Linked DNA regions of Homo sapiens: region 1 is linked to region 2. A link means that fine-mapping ties the variant in region 2 to the expression of a gene that starts in the linked region. Tissue or cell type: esophagus mucosa. Region 2 holds a variant in brackets; the other region holds the start of a gene. All regions are shown on one strand. Distances are between the middles of the regions.

Region 1 (8,103 bases), 180 kb before region 2:
TGTGTTTAAAAAAAAAAAAAAAGAAAAACCAGCAAACACAAAACCCCAACCAGGACAGAGGCTGGCAGCTGCTCTGTTTACACCCACCGTGCTCCTGGAAACAGATGTCCTGTCAAACCCGAAGGTTTCTGATGAGGCTTCCACTCTTCCGAGTGACCTGAGTGTTCAGTAATCAAAGGGACCTGTGCCCTTCTACATTAGTGCTCTCTGTTCTATGACTGATCTCCAGTTATGTGTCTGGGGTAAAGACTTTTGCTGATGAAGGCAAAAATCAGCATCTACTGTATCTACTCCAAGGGAAAAGCACTGGGCTAATGACAAAAGAAACTGCATTTGTGTGTTTGGTGGGGTAAAAAGAACAGAGGCTTTGGGACAATCAGGCTGAAATTCCAGCACTGTCACTTACTGTGTGATTGCAGGTTCTCATCTACCCTCTCTGGAACTCAGTTTTGGGGGCTGATAACACCAATTCCACAGGTTGCTGTGAGGATTAACAAGATATCATGGGTAGAGTTCTTGGTACAGTGCCTGACATATAGTAGCCACTGGGTAAAGGTCCTTTTGTTGTGGCTATTATCATAAACACAGACAAGGACAGAAGTCCACCTTGGCCACTGTGGGTTTATGTGGCACCCCAGGTGTTCCTGATGTGACTTCCTCTGGTTCCTCCTTGGGTGATGGTGGCCTTTCCAGTACAAGTCCTTGTCTGATTGACTGCACAGATAATGGTCTATGATCTGAGCGGGGAATGGATGTCCTGGAGTGTTCCAGTCCACTTCCCTATGCACTATGAGTCCGCTCCTTCACTACCCATCTGCTTGGAGTGTACACATTAGTCCTGATCCCAGTGCCCAGATTGGGGCTCAGGACAGGGAGGGTTGGCTTTTGGAGAACACACCACCAAGTCAATCCTGTGTTTCATGGAGAAATCTTTGACCATGGTGTAAGAGGTTTCTGGGCACAACACACGAGTCCCATGAACCACACAGAGAGATCCATGCCAGTCATGGGGCCCATCCCATGGGCCACAGAGTAGAGCAAAGAATGACCCAAAAAAGATCCCAGACACCAGCAAGATCTACGTAGAGAGAGAGAGAGAGGAGACCCCTGACACAATGCAAATCCAGTTTATGTTGCCAAGACACTAGATGCGCTGGGACAGATCATGTGAACAACAGCACTCTGAAATGGAACTCATATGCAGACCAGCGCAGACCCTTCATAAATGGCTGTGTCCACACTAAACAGCTCCCAGCAGGGCAGAGCATCAATGACGAGGAAGCCTTGGATAAAACGAGGATGGGTGAGGACAGGGTAGACAAGCCCACTGGGAGTCTAATTCACACAGCTTTTCTCATTCTCCCTGACAAGCTGGCTCCCCTGGTGAGCTGTTACCAAACTTCAGCCCTGAAGAGTTTGCGGTGCCCCAGAACCAGCGCCCTTCGCACCACCATGGCCCGAGTAGGTCCTCCTCTGGATAAGACCTCAGCACAGCTCTCTTTTCTGATGCTGCCAGCAGGGAAATTGGGAGCATCCTTTCTCCTTCATCTGGAGAGGTAGCTGAATAAGGATTCTTGGAGTTCCTATTTTCTTCTTTCAACTGAGGATCATTCAAAATCATCTGTAAGACACTGTGAGTGCCTCACATTGCCAGATCTTAACCTATCCCAGACCCTGCAAACCTTGGCCACATTTCTGTAGTGCCTACAGCTGTCACATAGGGCGCTACTCCAGAATACGGCTGGGTGGACTTCTGCATGTTCACAGTCAGTGCATCCATGGAGATTATCTCAGAGGACAGCTTCCTACAGCGTGGATGAACAGACACACGCCTGTGGCTTTGTTCTCCTTCTTTTTGCATTGGGTTGACCTGTGTATCAATTTGAAATCCCAAGAAATCCCTCTTTTTTCCATTTTGCTATCTAGTACTCTTCTATCACTTTTCATATACCATTTGAAGGACATAGTACTCAAACCAAAGCTATCGATCACCTTCAGGTGTTGTCTGAGGACCCTTGGGGAGCTTTTCTCCCCCTCCCCCCCACTCCTGCTCCCCTTTTCGGCACCTCTGTCACCCTCTCTTAAGGTCACGCCAGTTTTCCTGGCTGTCGTCCTCATGAAGGGTGGCTTCCTCCCTGAAGTGCTCCGCTCTGTCCCCTCCCTTGAGTCCCGGGCTTCACACACACAAACTCTGTTGGATGTTTTTTCCAGGAAATGCAGTTATTCTGACACTAGTGGGCCATTTCCCCGGCGTCCTCATTCCATTTCTGACAGTGCTCCTGCTACCCTCAGTAGATTATTATTATTTATTATTTATCAGCCACGACACTGTACTCTGCTTCCTACAAAATATTAAAGAAGACACAATCCGTGCGCTGAGTTTACAGCCAAGGAGAGCAGAGGCCTGGATCAGACATCACAGGGGGGGAGCTGAGAAGAAAATATTTACCGGCTCAGTCCTCCTTGGCCCTGGTAGATGGAGGCAAGGACTGGCAAAGCCCTCCCCAGGCCAGCTCCTCCCAGCTGGGCCCCCACAGCCAGCTCCCCACACTACCTACAGCACCCCAACTCCAATTTCTAGCAAGGCCTCAGGCCTCAGGCCTTTACCCGGGGGAGCGGAGGGAGGGTGGAGGATGAGGATTGGGCCCTCAGGCCTTTACATTCAGACAGGGGTGGAGGAGGAGGGCAGGTACAGATATTTCCTCTGAAACTCAAAACCAGGTAAAGGGGATGTAGGGGAGGAGGGAGAGGTCGGGGAATAAAAACCAGATTAGGAGAGCGGTCGGGGTGGAGAAGACTGTGCCCAGAGTGAAATATTCTAGCATAATGGAAAAGCCCTCATTGGGGGTCCCACACGCCTCTGGCCAAATCTCTTCTATTAGGGTTAGAAGTTAGGGTCTGTGTAGACAGCATGTGTAGACCGAGAGGTGGTGGGACTGAGAAGTCAGTGTAGACAGTGTGAGAGAGAGCGAGCTGTGGTGGGGGTGAGTAGTCGGTATAGACATCAAAGGCTGGTCAGGCTGTTAAACAGAGAAGGCTTCCTGGATTCCTAAGGGTCAGTATGAACAGAAAAGTCGCGCGCCCCAGGAGAGGCAGGGCTGACTCAGAAGGCTGGTGGACACTTTGCAGGGCTCTCCCTGGTCCTTCAGAGGTGTGGACAATTCCTGCTCCTTTCCAAGGCTGGAGTGTCATAAAGAGGGCGGAAGCTGAAAGACGATTGGACTTTTTCCTTCTCAAACTTTTCCGCCAGTTTCCTCAGGTGTTGAGAGCAGACGGGGAGCTCGCCTCAGTCCCGGGCCCCCAACCCTGGGCCAGCAAGGCCAGGAGGCCACGGCGGAGCAGCCCGTGCCACGCGCCGTGCGTCTGCCGGGCGCGGCCGCGGAGCCAGGCGAGCCGGGGGCCACCGCGGGGGGCGGGGGCGGCGGACGGACGGACCGACGGACACACCCGCGAGCACTCCAACCTCGGACCCGGCGCGCGGCAGCCGGGAATCCCTCGGGCCGGGGAAACTGCGCACGGGGCCCGGCCTGGCCGGGCCGGGCCAGAGGGCCCCGCCTCCCCCACCCGCCACCCCCGCCCACTCGGGCGCCCGTGATTGGCTCCGCCCGCCCCTGGCTGCGCGCCGAAGCCCGCCTCCCTCGCAGCTAAAGCAGACGGTACCCGGAGCGGAGCGAGCCAGAAGGGAGCATGGTCCCCGCGCCGCGGCCGCGCCAGCCCCCGCGCCGCCGCCGCCGTCCCCGCCACCGCGGATCTCGCCGCAGCTCCAGCCCCGGCCCCGGCTCCGCAGCGCCCGTCCGCAGCCCCGGCGGTCGCCGCGCTTGAGCGCAGCCCCCGCCCGGAGCCCGAGCCGCGAGCCCGGAGCCAGCCCCAGCCCCGCGGCCGCCGCGGCTGCGGGGAGAGGGCGGGGGCGATGCTGCCGGAGCCGCCGCCGCCGCCGCCGCCTCGATGAGAGCCGCGCCGCACCGCTCATAGCCGCACAGGCTGACAGGCAGGAGGACCGACTTCCCTCTCCCGGGCATCCTCCCTGGGCTGCCGGGAGGCGGCGGCGGCGGAGGAGGAGGAGGAACGAGGGGAGAAGGCGGAGAGCAGGAACGCGAGGAGGAGGACCTGGATCCGTTTCCTCCGGCCAGGACCCGAGCGGCCCCAGCCACCGCTACCCGCCGGCGCTGTCCGCTCTCCATCAGCCCTCCTGCGCCCACCCGCGACCCCGGGCTCTCTGCGCGTCGGGCCGGGGCCGGAGCCGCGCGCCGGAGGTAAGAGCCGGGCCGGGCTGGAGCGCCTCGGATGCGGCGCCGGAGGGAGACCCAGGTCCTGGCCGCCGCGTGGGGCCGGGCCGGGCCGGGCGTGGGAGCGGGGCCGGAACCCGGAACCCTGGGCTCGGCTTCGGCGGCGGCGGCGGCGACAGGAGCCTCCCGCGTCTGGACTCGCAGGCTGCAGGAGCCCTTGCGCCTGCGCTGCTCCAGGGGGAAAAAAAGGGGGGGAAAAAACTTCCTGCCCCCGGGTGTGTATGCACCGGGGCTGCCTGGGGCCACTGTCACGGTGTTCGGAGGTGCTGGAGGCTTGTGTGACCCCTGGCCGGAGCAGCCCCCCTGCTGGGCCCGGCGGCGCGCGCCCCTCTCCAGGCCACGTTCCCCTGAGCGGCCCAGGGCCCCGGCCGGGCAGGAGACCTGGAGGCGACGGAGGGCTGGCCCCCAGGGGCGGCCGCGCGCACTGTCCTTTGGGGAGGTGCGCGCCTCTGTGCAGCGAGAAGCCAGGTTGGGGTTTTCTGCCCCTCGCGTCCTCTGATCTCGCATTTGGGGACTGGGTCTCTTTACTCAATCCCAAGTAACTTTCGAGGTAGATGAGCTCGAAAACCGTCGGGAGGGAACCCGCACAGACCTTATTGTGACCCACCCCACCCCGACACACACACGCACACTTCCCTTGACACCTTGTGGGTGCCAGCGTGTTGTGGGGGGACGCGGAAAGGAGAGCTCACGGGGACGGCGAAGCGGCCAGGAGGTGGTGTCGTTGGGGAGGGGTTGTTGATGTGTGGGACAGGGTGGACCTGGAGATGTGTAGTGTGGGAGTGTGAACGCGCGCCCCGATGGCCTCGGGGGGCCGGGGGAGCCCAGGGCTCGCGTCCCGGTCTCCGTGGCCTGGAGCGGGCTGAGAGCGCTAGGGTTATCTGCGGTCGCCGCGCGGGTGCCCGCGCTGGGCAGCGTCGGCCCCGGGCCCCAAGGGAGGGACGTGCTCGCCTGGGGCCGGAGCGCGGGGCTGGGAGCCGGGGTAGGTCGGAGGTGGCTCTTAGGGCAGGTCGCCTCTGCGTTGCCTGGGGAAGGCGGGGACGCGCTGCCTGCCTGCGGCCAGCCGTCTCGGAGGAGGGGGTGGCGGCCACGCGCGAGTCTCGGATGCCTGGGTCCACCCGCTGAGAAGCCAGTTGTCGTCCCTGGGCTGTGGAACCAAGCGGCAGACGCGGTCCGTTGGCGGGCCCTCGCGCGGGCCCCCAGAGATGCTGATGGGTAAGGAGCTGCCGCCGCCGCCGCTGCCATCCCCGCCGCTCTGCAAACGTTCTCCTCCCTCCCTCCCGTGCTTGCGCCGCGGCGCGCCCCGGGCGAATCGTGGACGCAGGTATTTATGTAGCATTAGGCGAGACCTCGGCGCTGGAGGGACCAGACCGTGGAGGACGCCGAGCTGCTGCTGCCTGCGAAACTTCCACTTCGGCAGCTCAGCGGCATCCCGGCCCGCTGCTGCAGGTTCCAGCCTCTCTCCAGTCCAGCAACGCTGGGATTCGGACTCCTCTTGCAATGACAGATCTGTCCTGGTTACGGCTGTATTTATACTAGTTTCAGTCTCTTTAAAGTCATCTGTCTAGTCACTACAGAGTTTCTTCCTCGCCGTGTGGTCTTATCACTAACTCAGCCCTGGGAGGGCAGATTTGAGGAATTGCTTCATTTTCAGATGAATGACAGCAGACTTGTCCCACCTCATTCCTGATTTATTATTATTATTATTATTATTATTATTATTATTATTATTATGGAAAGAAGGTATAGAGCTTTTTAATTTTTTTGTGAGGGAGGAGAATGAACAATTTTATAGATTGTTCTTTCCGACACTTAGAGAAAACATGTCCAGTAAGCACTAGTGAATACTTTAAAGGCTGGTTGGCATGCGTGTATTTGATTAGTCCATAATCTAGGTGTTTATACAGGTATGGAGCTGTGTGCTACTGATGAATAGTCTCCGTCCCATACATTGTGCTGGAGTGCACTTGATTTATCACCCTGCTATAAATCAGGGAATTACTAGCACATGTGCCTTTTAAACTCTATATGAATTTAATGGCATTTAAATTGGTTTATGGGCTGATGCATCTAACCAATTTTAATAACTTTTCTGCACAAACATCTTATAAACCATATTTGCCTGTGATTAAGAAAAACATTTTCTTCTCCTCGGTCTCTCGGTTATGGAAATTTATAGGTCTCCAACTTTCATTTGCAAGCAGCAATCCAAACGAAATACCTAGAGTTTTACTGAAATAAAATATCCTATGGTAGCCATGGTAACAAATAGATTAAGGGTTATTGGTTTTCATCTGAATGTGATGGGGGGTGGGGATCTAGTGTTGTGTCTTTTTAATTATGTTTCTAATGAGTGGTGGTCATACTTCAAGTACTCAGTGTGGGAGACAAGCAAGACTGAGAATTCAGGTTTGTGGGAGGTTTATTGAAACAAAGACTAGTAGAGCCCAGGAGAATGACTTTTGCTAACTGCAGCTCCTCATATCTAGGAACAAAATGGATAAAAACCTTTTTTTTGTTTTTCCAGTAGATGAGCATTGAGTCAGTCACTTTAAGACCGGAAAATGCATTTTGCTTATAAACTATTACCAAAGGAACCTCTAAATCCAGCCTGTTTTCTAGGAATAAACATGTTGGAAGTGTGGCGGTTGGTGTGGATTGAGTGTCACCGTTGTTATCAACACCTGTCAGTTTAAGTGAGGCACATCATTAGTCTATTCAAATCTTGCCTATTTCAGTATTCATGCATTTCCATGGTGATCCATTCATTTTTATTTAGTCAACCTTATAAATCTTTGGCATCAATTTTAGTTGTGCCATCTTTTTCCTTCTTTTATCAATTGATTTGGCTACAAACCATTCCTAGTTTAAAGTATCTCCTTCTTTTTTCCTGCTAGTTTCTAAAAGCCTACACTATTCCCAGCTACATACAGATATAAAGGAGTTAATTTTTTTTCATCAACTCAAATGGCACCCCTAATACTAATGTCATTTTTTGGCATCTCATTTGATATGTATGTGTACATGGGTTTTTTTTTTCTTTCTTTCAGCAGGCTTACTGTAAAGCTTTCTCACTTTTTGGCTGGGAGACATCAATTCAGTCCAGCAGAACTAACTAAAGTTTTTCCTTCCTTCCTCCTTTTTGCTTCCTTCCTTTTTTTCTTTCTTTCTTCTTCTTTTTTTTTTTTTTTTTTTTAAAATCCCAGTACTGTTATGGCTTAGGCATTCTTTGTGTCATCGGTTGTATCTGGCTTGGAGAGACTTCGAGACTATATTAGAGCAGGTCTGTCCTGGGGTCTTTTCTAGTAGTGGTCAAAGCCAGAAGTTTTCAGAACAGCAGAGGATTTTCCAAATACAATATATATTTAGTCACAGCATATAGTGCCCCTAGGATCATAGTAACATTGTAAGTCCACTGAACAGGCAGTTTTACTTAAATGCGAGTGATGATTTTGCTCACCCACTTTCAACTTAGCTTTCTAATGATGCAATCCCATGCTAATCACAACCCTGTATATTTCAGAAATATCAAGGCAAGCATTAGCACGCTACTGACTTATTAGGATCAGGCAAAGTAATTGGAACACTTAAGTTCAAAGTCAGATGAAGAAATGGAATTATAACCAACTTTGTGATTCTGTAATCAGTCAACTAAGTGCCTACTTGGGGATAGGAGGAGGAAGAAACATCATGAATAAGAAATCCAGCCTTTAGTTGTGCTGAATGAGGATAAACCAAGGCAGTTACTGTGTAAGAGGACTGGAGAACAAGAAATGTGTTAGTGGATGGGAGGACTGCTGGAGCCCAGGAAGTTGAG
Region 2 (8,103 bases):
GCTGGGGGAAGGTGTGCGGCAGGCTGCAGGGAGGTGGGGGTGGTGCTTAAGAGAGAGGAGAGCTGCAAAGGTAGCCTTGGGAGTTATCCAGAAAGAGGGGATGGAGGGATGAGATCATCCGGGGAGAAGAGGAGGAGGAGATCTGGAACCCGGAGGAGCCCCAGCTTTTTAAGAATGAGCTGAGGAAGAGGAGCCCGCCAAGGAGACTGAGAAGGAGCAGCCGAGAGGGAGGCGGAGGGCTGGGAGAGGGCTGGCATCACAGAAACTGCAGAGGAGGGTTCCGGAAAGCAAGGAAGATCAGCCACGTCGCAAGTGAGGGAAGTTGAGGACAGCGGCATAAATGTCCCCTTGGATTTAGCGAGTAGGTCACCCATGACTTCAATGAGAACAGTTCCCATGGAGTGGCCAGGGCGAAGGCCACAGCGGAGCAGGTCACAGAGTGAACAGGACGAGGAAACTGGAGCTAAGTTTAGACAATGCCATCAAGAAGTTCAGCCGAAAAAGTTTATGTGGGGAGATCAAAAGGGAATGGATTTTTATTTTTTAACCATGTAATATTGGATAGGCTTTTTTTTTTTTTTTTTTTTTTTTTTGAGACGGAGTCTTGCTCTGTTGACAGGCTGGAGTGCAATATCGCGATCTCAGCTCACTGCAACCTCTGCCTCCCAAGTTCAAGTGATTCTCCTGCCTCAGCCTCCTGAGTAGCTGGGACTACAGGCACGTGCTGCCACTCCCAACTAATTTTAGTGTTTTTAGTAGAGATGGGGTTTCACTGTGTTGGCCAAGATGGTCTGGATCTCTTGCCCTTGTGATCCGCCTGCCTTGGCCTCCCAAAGTGCTAGGATTACAGGTGTAGGCCACTGCATCCAGCCTGGATAGACTTTTTAAAAAGAATTTTTGTGTCATGGTGTAAGCCAGAAAGCATAATGGTGAAATAAACAGTGACACCACATCCAGCTGAAGAAGTTATGGTCAGCTCTGTTTCAGGCGGGGCTGCAGGCTTCACCTGGGCTGCAGGGTGGGTTCAGGTCTGCCCAGTGTGCCTGGCAGAGGGGATGATGGCCACCAGGGCACAGGCCAGCATGCAAGTAGAACATGGGTAGGAGGCTGCTTGGGTTGGGCACAGGCCCTGGCTCCATGGCACTAGAAGTTGACAACTAGGTCTGGATGTGCAAAGTCTGCAGTAAGAACAGGCTTTATAGATAGATATTTTTAAAATAAAGTGGCCCGTCTGTCCACTGGCCAACAATTCCAGGGTGCCTCCCCAGGGCTGAGCTGGACTGGCAGGATAGGAAAAGGAGCTGGGAACCCGGACCTCCGGGGACTCACCCCCAGACTGGAAAACAGTTGGAGAATGGAAAAGGCCAAAGGCAACCAAGCTGTGCCTGAGCCATGCCCAGGGCTGTGGGTGTGATGCAGACCCCTACCCTAACCCACCACCACTTGTGCCCTGGCACTGCCATGCCCTCTCCCCTCTGTCTCTGCCTCTCCATGGCCTCTGAGACCGACAGCTTCCCCTGCGTCTTTACAGCGTTCTTGACCGAGAGTAACACCAGGCCCTGGATGGGCAGGGAACCAGGCAAGTCATGGTAATACTGAGCAAAATGCAATCTTTGGTGATTCAGAAGCCCTTCCAAGTATCATGGTGTGTCCAGGTCTCCATGACAACATGGAAGGGCCTTATGCTCAGAGGCTCAGGAGAGCTGTGTGGGAGATAGTCTGGTTAACAGAGGCCAGGGTACTCCGGGTCTCTGATGCCGCCCGAGATCAAATCATAGGGCTGTGATTATGAAAGGGAACTCAACTCCTGGAGGCTAACACCCTTTGCGACTTGAGTTGTGCATTTAGCTAGGATCTAAAGGCTGGGGATCCTGGACTCTTTATCACTTTCTAGTACTCGAACCTCAAGGGATAACTTATTCTCAGTGAGGTCCCTCGACCCTCAACTGGGAACCATCCATGCCCTGCCGCCTCACAGGCTACTGTAGGAGGAAGAGAGATTTATGTAAAGGGCTTTGTCCACTATAAAGTGAGTCTGCACACGTGGGTGGCCGCATCCTATCACGTGTTGGAGGAAAACACGTCCTGAGGAGTTCACGGCTCTTTTTTCACGGTGGGGTGGGAGGGGATAAAGTCCCATCCATAATTAAAATATGCACATTTGTGTCATTCAGGGCAGTGAGATGTGGCAGAACAAACAGTATCACTTTTAACTGTGACTGGGTTCAAATCCTGCCTACTTACTTTGGCCACGTGATCCTGGGCAAATTGTGTATTCCTTGTCTGTGAAGTGGGGCTAATTAATGATCCATGCTTTGTGGGCTAGCGTGACTCTGAAATGAGCTAATGTTTGAAGGCCTGTTATTGAACCCAGAGAAGGGGCTTCATGGATGCTGTCAGTTGTCGCTGCCTGCTCCAGTCCTAAATCACCCTTCTCTCCACCCTGTCACCACAGGTCCGGGCTCTGTTTCCCTGTGAGAAGCCGCCTCGGCCCACCGAGATGTCCCGGCACCATAGCCGCTTCGAAAGAGATTACCGGGTGGGCTGGGACCGCCGCGAATGGAGCGTCAACGGGACGCATGGGACCACCAGCATCTGCAGTGTCACCTCGGGGGCCGGTGGCGGCACAGCCAGCAGCCTCAGCGTCCGGCCCGGCCTCCTGCCGCTGCCCGTGGTGCCCTCCCGGCTGCCCACCCCGGCTACAGCTCCTGCTCCCTGCACCACCGGCAGCAGCGAGGCCATCACCAGCCTCGTGGCCAGCTCTGCGTCTGCGGTCACCACCAAGGTAAGATGTGGTGTCATCTCTGAGCAGGAGCCGGACAGAGGGGCCCTGCCTCCCTGCAGGCTCAGGCCAGCCCCACAGGCTCCTGTGGGGCAGCCTGTGCTCCACGCCCCGAGTCCTCCAGAGTCTTGTCCTTCCAGGACCTGGGCCTGGAAACTGTTTGCGAGCATTCATGCGGGTTTTATTATCCATGAAGTCTTTCTCTGTGACTAACTTGTAGGAAGACAAGCAGGTGCTGAGGCCACTCATTGTCCTATGCCATGTTGATTAGATGCTATTAATGAGTGAAGTAACAGTGGACCTCCAAGATGGCAATATGGGGTTCCTAAATAGATAAATTGAGACCATGCAAGCATCCCTGGGGGTGCCAGTAACTTGGGTGTGCAAGAAGATACTGACAAGCAGTAACAGTCATAAAGGGTGATAAACCCACACTTTATTAACCACTGGGCCTCGTGTTCTCATATCCGTTGTCTCTTCTGAGCCTTGCCACAGCACGGTGAGGTCAGTACTTTTATCATCCCTGCCTTACAGTTGAGGACACTGAGGCACAGCAAGGGCTCAGTAGGCCTTCTAAGGGCTGGTCCAAGGCTGTGGGACCTTTCTGCAGAGGACCCAGGACTTGTCCCCACAGCTGGCTTCAGGGATGTCAGCGCCAGGTCATTCCCGTTTCTTTCAGAAGAGGTGGCTCCAGCCTTGGGAATGGCAACAGAGGCCAACCTGTGTTGCTGAATGGAATGTGGAAAACAGTGTTGCCAAGGCTCTTGCTTGGCCTTGGGCTGAGCTCGTCCTCCATCGTGCTGGCTGCTCGGAGCCCCTCAGGCAGCCTGAGTCCTGGAGGGCCGGGCCCCTGGCCATGGCTGTGGTAGGAAGGCCATCGGTCCCCATCCTGCTTCCTCACCGAGCAGGGGCTGTGCAGGCTGCCTTTGCCTCTGCTGGCCATTCGGAGCTGCCTCCCAGGAGCCCCCTTGGGGCAGTGTCCGTGTACATGCGTGTATGTGCCTGCATGCGTGTGTGTGTGCATGAGTGTATGTGTGTGCACATGTGTGTGTGTCTAGGCTTTTCTTTTCCTGCTTTCAGAAAAGTTGCCAGAGAAGTTAAAGGCGGGGAGCCCCAGCCCGGCCATTGTGAGGTGGCTGTGGTGCTGGAAAGCCGCGCTCCAGGTGTGCTGCGCCTTTGTCTCCTGGTTTTCAAAACTCCCTTTCAGCCCTGCTTCCCATTAATAACTGTGAGTGTTGCCGGCCACAGAGCCTGGCAGAGGCTGAGACAATGGAGCTATTGGAGGCTGGCTCGGAGCGCACTGACATCTTGCTGCAGTGCCTTATTGATTTTATTTTCCTGTTATGAAAACACCACCCCACTGAGGCGGGGAGGGAAAGAATGTTGGACAGGGGAGAGGAGATGGAGGATTATTTGGGCACGCTGCCCCCAGGCCAGCCAAACACATTCCTCCCCTGGGCGCCAGCCCGAGCGCTGGTCTGACTCAGTGACCTCTGCCCAGTAGGGCCAGCCGCTGGACCTGCTGGCCACATCTGGCAGGCGCTCTGCAGGGCCAGCTGTTGGCCATATGGAGAATGGCAGCCGCTGGAACCGACTGCTCGGGGCTCCAGGTGGGAGAGAGAGGCTGGGCCCGGAGGCCGTCTTGAAAGTGTCTGTCCTTTTAAGGATACATGCCTTTGTAGGGATGGTGTTGGGCTGCTCTGGGGGATGAAGTGGAGGGGCTCGGTGCTGGGGCTCCCCCACAGGGCTGTGCTGCCTGCAGAGCTCCCGCTTTGCTCCAGAGTGGCTTGATATTCACCATCCTTGACTGGCCTGATCCCAAACCACAGCCACATGAGAGGAAGGGAACCCAGTCTCAGACAGAAAACAACAGCTGGGGCAAGGACTGGGCAGGGTGGCCAGGAGGGGGAGAGGGGGC[G/A]AAAGTTCATTCCTGTGAGGACAGCCCGCTCCTTGGCATGTCACAACAGAGGAACTGAATTCTGCCTCCAGCCCGGCCTGTTTCCTGCAGGGGCTTGTTTGATTCCCCGGATTAAGCCCTGGTCCCTTGGTGCCCAGGAGCACTGGGTGGGGGGAAGGGAGGACAGCAGTGCTGGCTTCCCGAGCACCCCTGGCAGATTTGGGCCACAGTGCCTTCCCGCCGTTCTAGCCTGGCTCCTGCCCACCCAGAGGCCTGTCCCCTAGCCTATGTGTCTGACCCCGTGCCAAGACCACATCAACTGATGGGCAGGCCCGGGCCCAGGTATTTGCGGTTTCCCCGGTCAACAATGTGGGTCTTTACTGAGCAGGCAAGAGCTGGCTGGCTCTTGCCCTCGGGGAGCTCACGGCTCCTTGTGTATAACAAATCTGTGGCCTGGACAGTGTGACCAGATGACCCAAGAATGTCTCTCCCCCTGAAGTTATTGGCAGGGGAGGCCTAGTGCAGTGGCTACAGCCAGACTTTGGAGACAGACTGCCTGGATTTGAATTCCCTTCTACCGCTTGCTATCTGAGTGACCCTGGACAGGTTACCTAACCTCTCTGGGCGTCACTTCTGTAAAATGGGAAGAGGTCGTTGTACTTGCGAGCAGAGTTGTTGTGAGGACTGTGTGGGTTAAAACCTGTGTGAAGTGCTCAGAACAAGACAGAACCTGGCATGTGGTATTTCGAGTCTCATATTGGTGCTGACCTCCTCCTATCACCGCTGTCACTGTCATCCAGGTGAGGCCTATGGGACAAGGCTCTACCCTCTTAGGGAAAGGTGTTCATGTCCTTTTTTTTTCTTCTTCAGTAGAGATGGGGTTTCACCATGTTGGCCAGGCTGGTCTTGAACTCCTGACCTCAAGTGATCCACCCACCTTGGCATCCCAAAGTGCTGGGATTACAGACGTGAATCGCCGTGCCCAGCCTGAAAGGTGTTCCTTTCTAACCTCACCAAGAGGAAAAGGCAGGTCTTCAGATAAGACACAGCAGCCAGGCCCCAAGAAAGCAAGGAAAGGAAAGAGCATCTCAAACCTACCCCTTGGCTGGGACTCCAGATGCTCCGTAGGCAAGAGGGAGCTGGGGGGAAGAGGCCGTCTAGCGGGCTCCAGACCGAGACTGGTAACAGCCAGGTGACCAAGGGAAGGGAGTTTAAAGCTTTTTTCAGCTGTGGCGCCCTTTCCTCTAGGGAAAGCCCATTGTGGAAACAGCTGAAACTGCACTCCAGTGGATGGTGGGGTGGGTGGGCGAGGTTGGCCGGGTAGAAGCCAGGAGCAGAGCTGTGTCCGAGCTCACCAGAGTGTGGGGACAGCTGCTGGAATGTATCCACCGGGCTTCCTGGGTGAAGGGTCTAGAGCCACATGTGGACCAGAGCCACCCTCGGAAACTCAGCAACTGTCCCTGAGGAAAGTGACTGGGGGACTAGTGTCAGTACTGTGAGGCCTTAGTGTCCCCTCTTGGCTAGGCAGTGCGCAGGGTGAACATCACGTGCCCTGGGGGCTGGGGCATCCCATGCCATCACCCTCCCCACCCAGCCCTGTGGGCCTGGTCACCTTCCCAGGCAGGGGCCGGCTTCTGCCAGGCTCTTTGGGTGAGGAGGCTGGCTGTGCTCCCAGCAGCTGGCCGGTGAGGTGATGACAATTCTTTCTGTCACTGCTGCCTTCAGGCCTGAGTTGGTTTTTCTACTTCTTCATTTGTCTGTGGCCTAAAGATTCCTCACGTGTCTTGAGGAAAGGCCAGTTGGACAAGCAGACTCCTGGGCTGCTGAAGTACAGGGAGGGTCTGGTGGGCTCCCCCAGCCCCGCAACACACACTCATGGCTCAGACCAATCAGCAGCCTCCCCAGGACACAAGTTCCAAGAGCCTAACAGGAGCAGAGTGACCACGTCCTCCAGCCCCTCATTCTACAGGTCACAGTAGTGAGGCCCAAAGAAAATGTGGCCTGCCAAGGTCACCCAGTGAGTTAGAATCAGAACCAGCCTGGGCCAGCTCCTCTTCCCACTCCAGGCTGCCTGGTAGAGCATTCACCATGGTAACCATGATTGCAGCATTGTTATGGTAACTTTTCCATCTGCTCATCCACCCAGCTGATAGCAAGCAAGAGATTTCAGGCCAGAAAGTGGGCACATTTACCTCTGTGGTATAGGTGAGAAAATTTAAGCCAAAGGTTATGTCAACTCAGCATTTCACCACTGCTAAGAGCTTCAAGCTTTTGAGTCTGACAGCACTGGGATTGAATCCTAGCTCCGCCACTTAGAAGCTGAGTATGTCTCTGAACCTCAGTTTCTTTGTCTCTAAGAATTGGGAATAATCATAGAATCCTCCTCATGGGGATGATGTGAGAACTGGTTAAATTAATATGCATAGAAAAGCTTAAAACACTACCTGCCATTTGGTAAGCACTCGATAAAAGTTAATTTTAGAAAGATAAACCATTGACTGGGTCTACCCAGTTATTCATACATTTGCGGGGAAACCTGTCCCCCCCTGGTGGTTGGTGCTGGAGGCTGAAGAAAGGTGCATTGGCCTGTCCCCATCCCCTGTCTGATGTGGCATGAGGTCATGCTAAGGAACTGGGATGGCATCCCATCCCTGGCCCACCACTGTGTGTCTGGGCTGTAAATGGTCAGGACCGCAGGGGCAGGGTGCTCCTGAGAAGCAGAACTGCGACTCCACTGCCAGGCCTGTTTGTGGGCCTGAAGGGAAGCCCCAGTGCCCCACAGTTGCTGCTGCATGAAATTTAAATTATTCTCAGCAAACCTGCTTGACAGATGAAACAGAAAAGGGACGGCTTCATAAAATGCAATTTTGTTCCTGAAAGAATGGACTCTGCAGAATCCTCGCTGATGTCTGTGAAATGTACTGGGAGCTTTTTTTCCTAGTGGTCAGGAGCACTCATGCTGAAACATTCCCATCGTCCCTCAGAGCTAAGCCCTTGAAAATAAATCTAGCTGGGAAGCAGAGCGACTTCGCCTGTGTCGGAGGCCCGAGAAGAACCAAAAGGGGCTATGAAATCTGCAGGCTTCATCGTCAACACTCAAAACACCCGGGTTTTGACATTTATGAGCATTTAGGGCTATCGGGGTGGATATGTGTCATCATAGAGACAACGCTGGAGATGATATCTTCCCCATGCGCTCCAGCTTCTCTGGAGGAATGCTCCCCTTGGGGGAGATGATCTGGGATTTCCGTGGGGATCATGTGAGTGACCGCAGGGCCAATGTGGCAGCCCCTCCTGTTGTGTGCTTCTGGGGCCCATGAATGGAGAGAGGATGCTTTTGCACAGAACTCTCATTCCTCTTGTATTCACATTGAAAATCGAAGGCTGCCTTGCCGAGTGGGCTCAGTTGGGAGAATCATTCAAG

The links. PIP is the estimated chance that this variant, and not a neighbour inherited with it, causes the effect.
Region 1: KLHL29 starts here. The variant in region 2 is fine-mapped to the expression of KLHL29 in esophagus mucosa (GTEx, PIP 0.98).

The regions. Positions count from the first base shown.
Region 1 is chr2:23,381,528-23,389,630 of GRCh38, forward strand. KLHL29 (kelch like family member 29) reads left to right here and starts at 3,652. Exons shown (of 14, transcript NM_052920.2): 1 at 3,652-4,253. LINC02923 (long intergenic non-protein coding RNA 2923) reads right to left here and starts at 5,791. Exons shown (of 6, transcript NR_187213.1): 1 at 1-5,791. RefSeq lists silencers at 1,591-1,885, 3,389-3,738, 3,909-4,768, 5,009-5,128, 5,149-5,318 and 1 more and an enhancer at 1,591-1,885.
Region 2 is chr2:23,559,697-23,567,799 of GRCh38, forward strand. KLHL29 (kelch like family member 29) reads left to right here. Exons shown (of 14, transcript NM_052920.2): 3 at 2,456-2,785. The coding sequence starts at 2,501. Among named protein-coding and RNA genes, the nearest start is that of LINC02923, 180 kb to the left of the region's middle. RefSeq lists a silencer at 4,337-4,698. The variant G/A (reference allele first, on the strand shown) is at 4,701.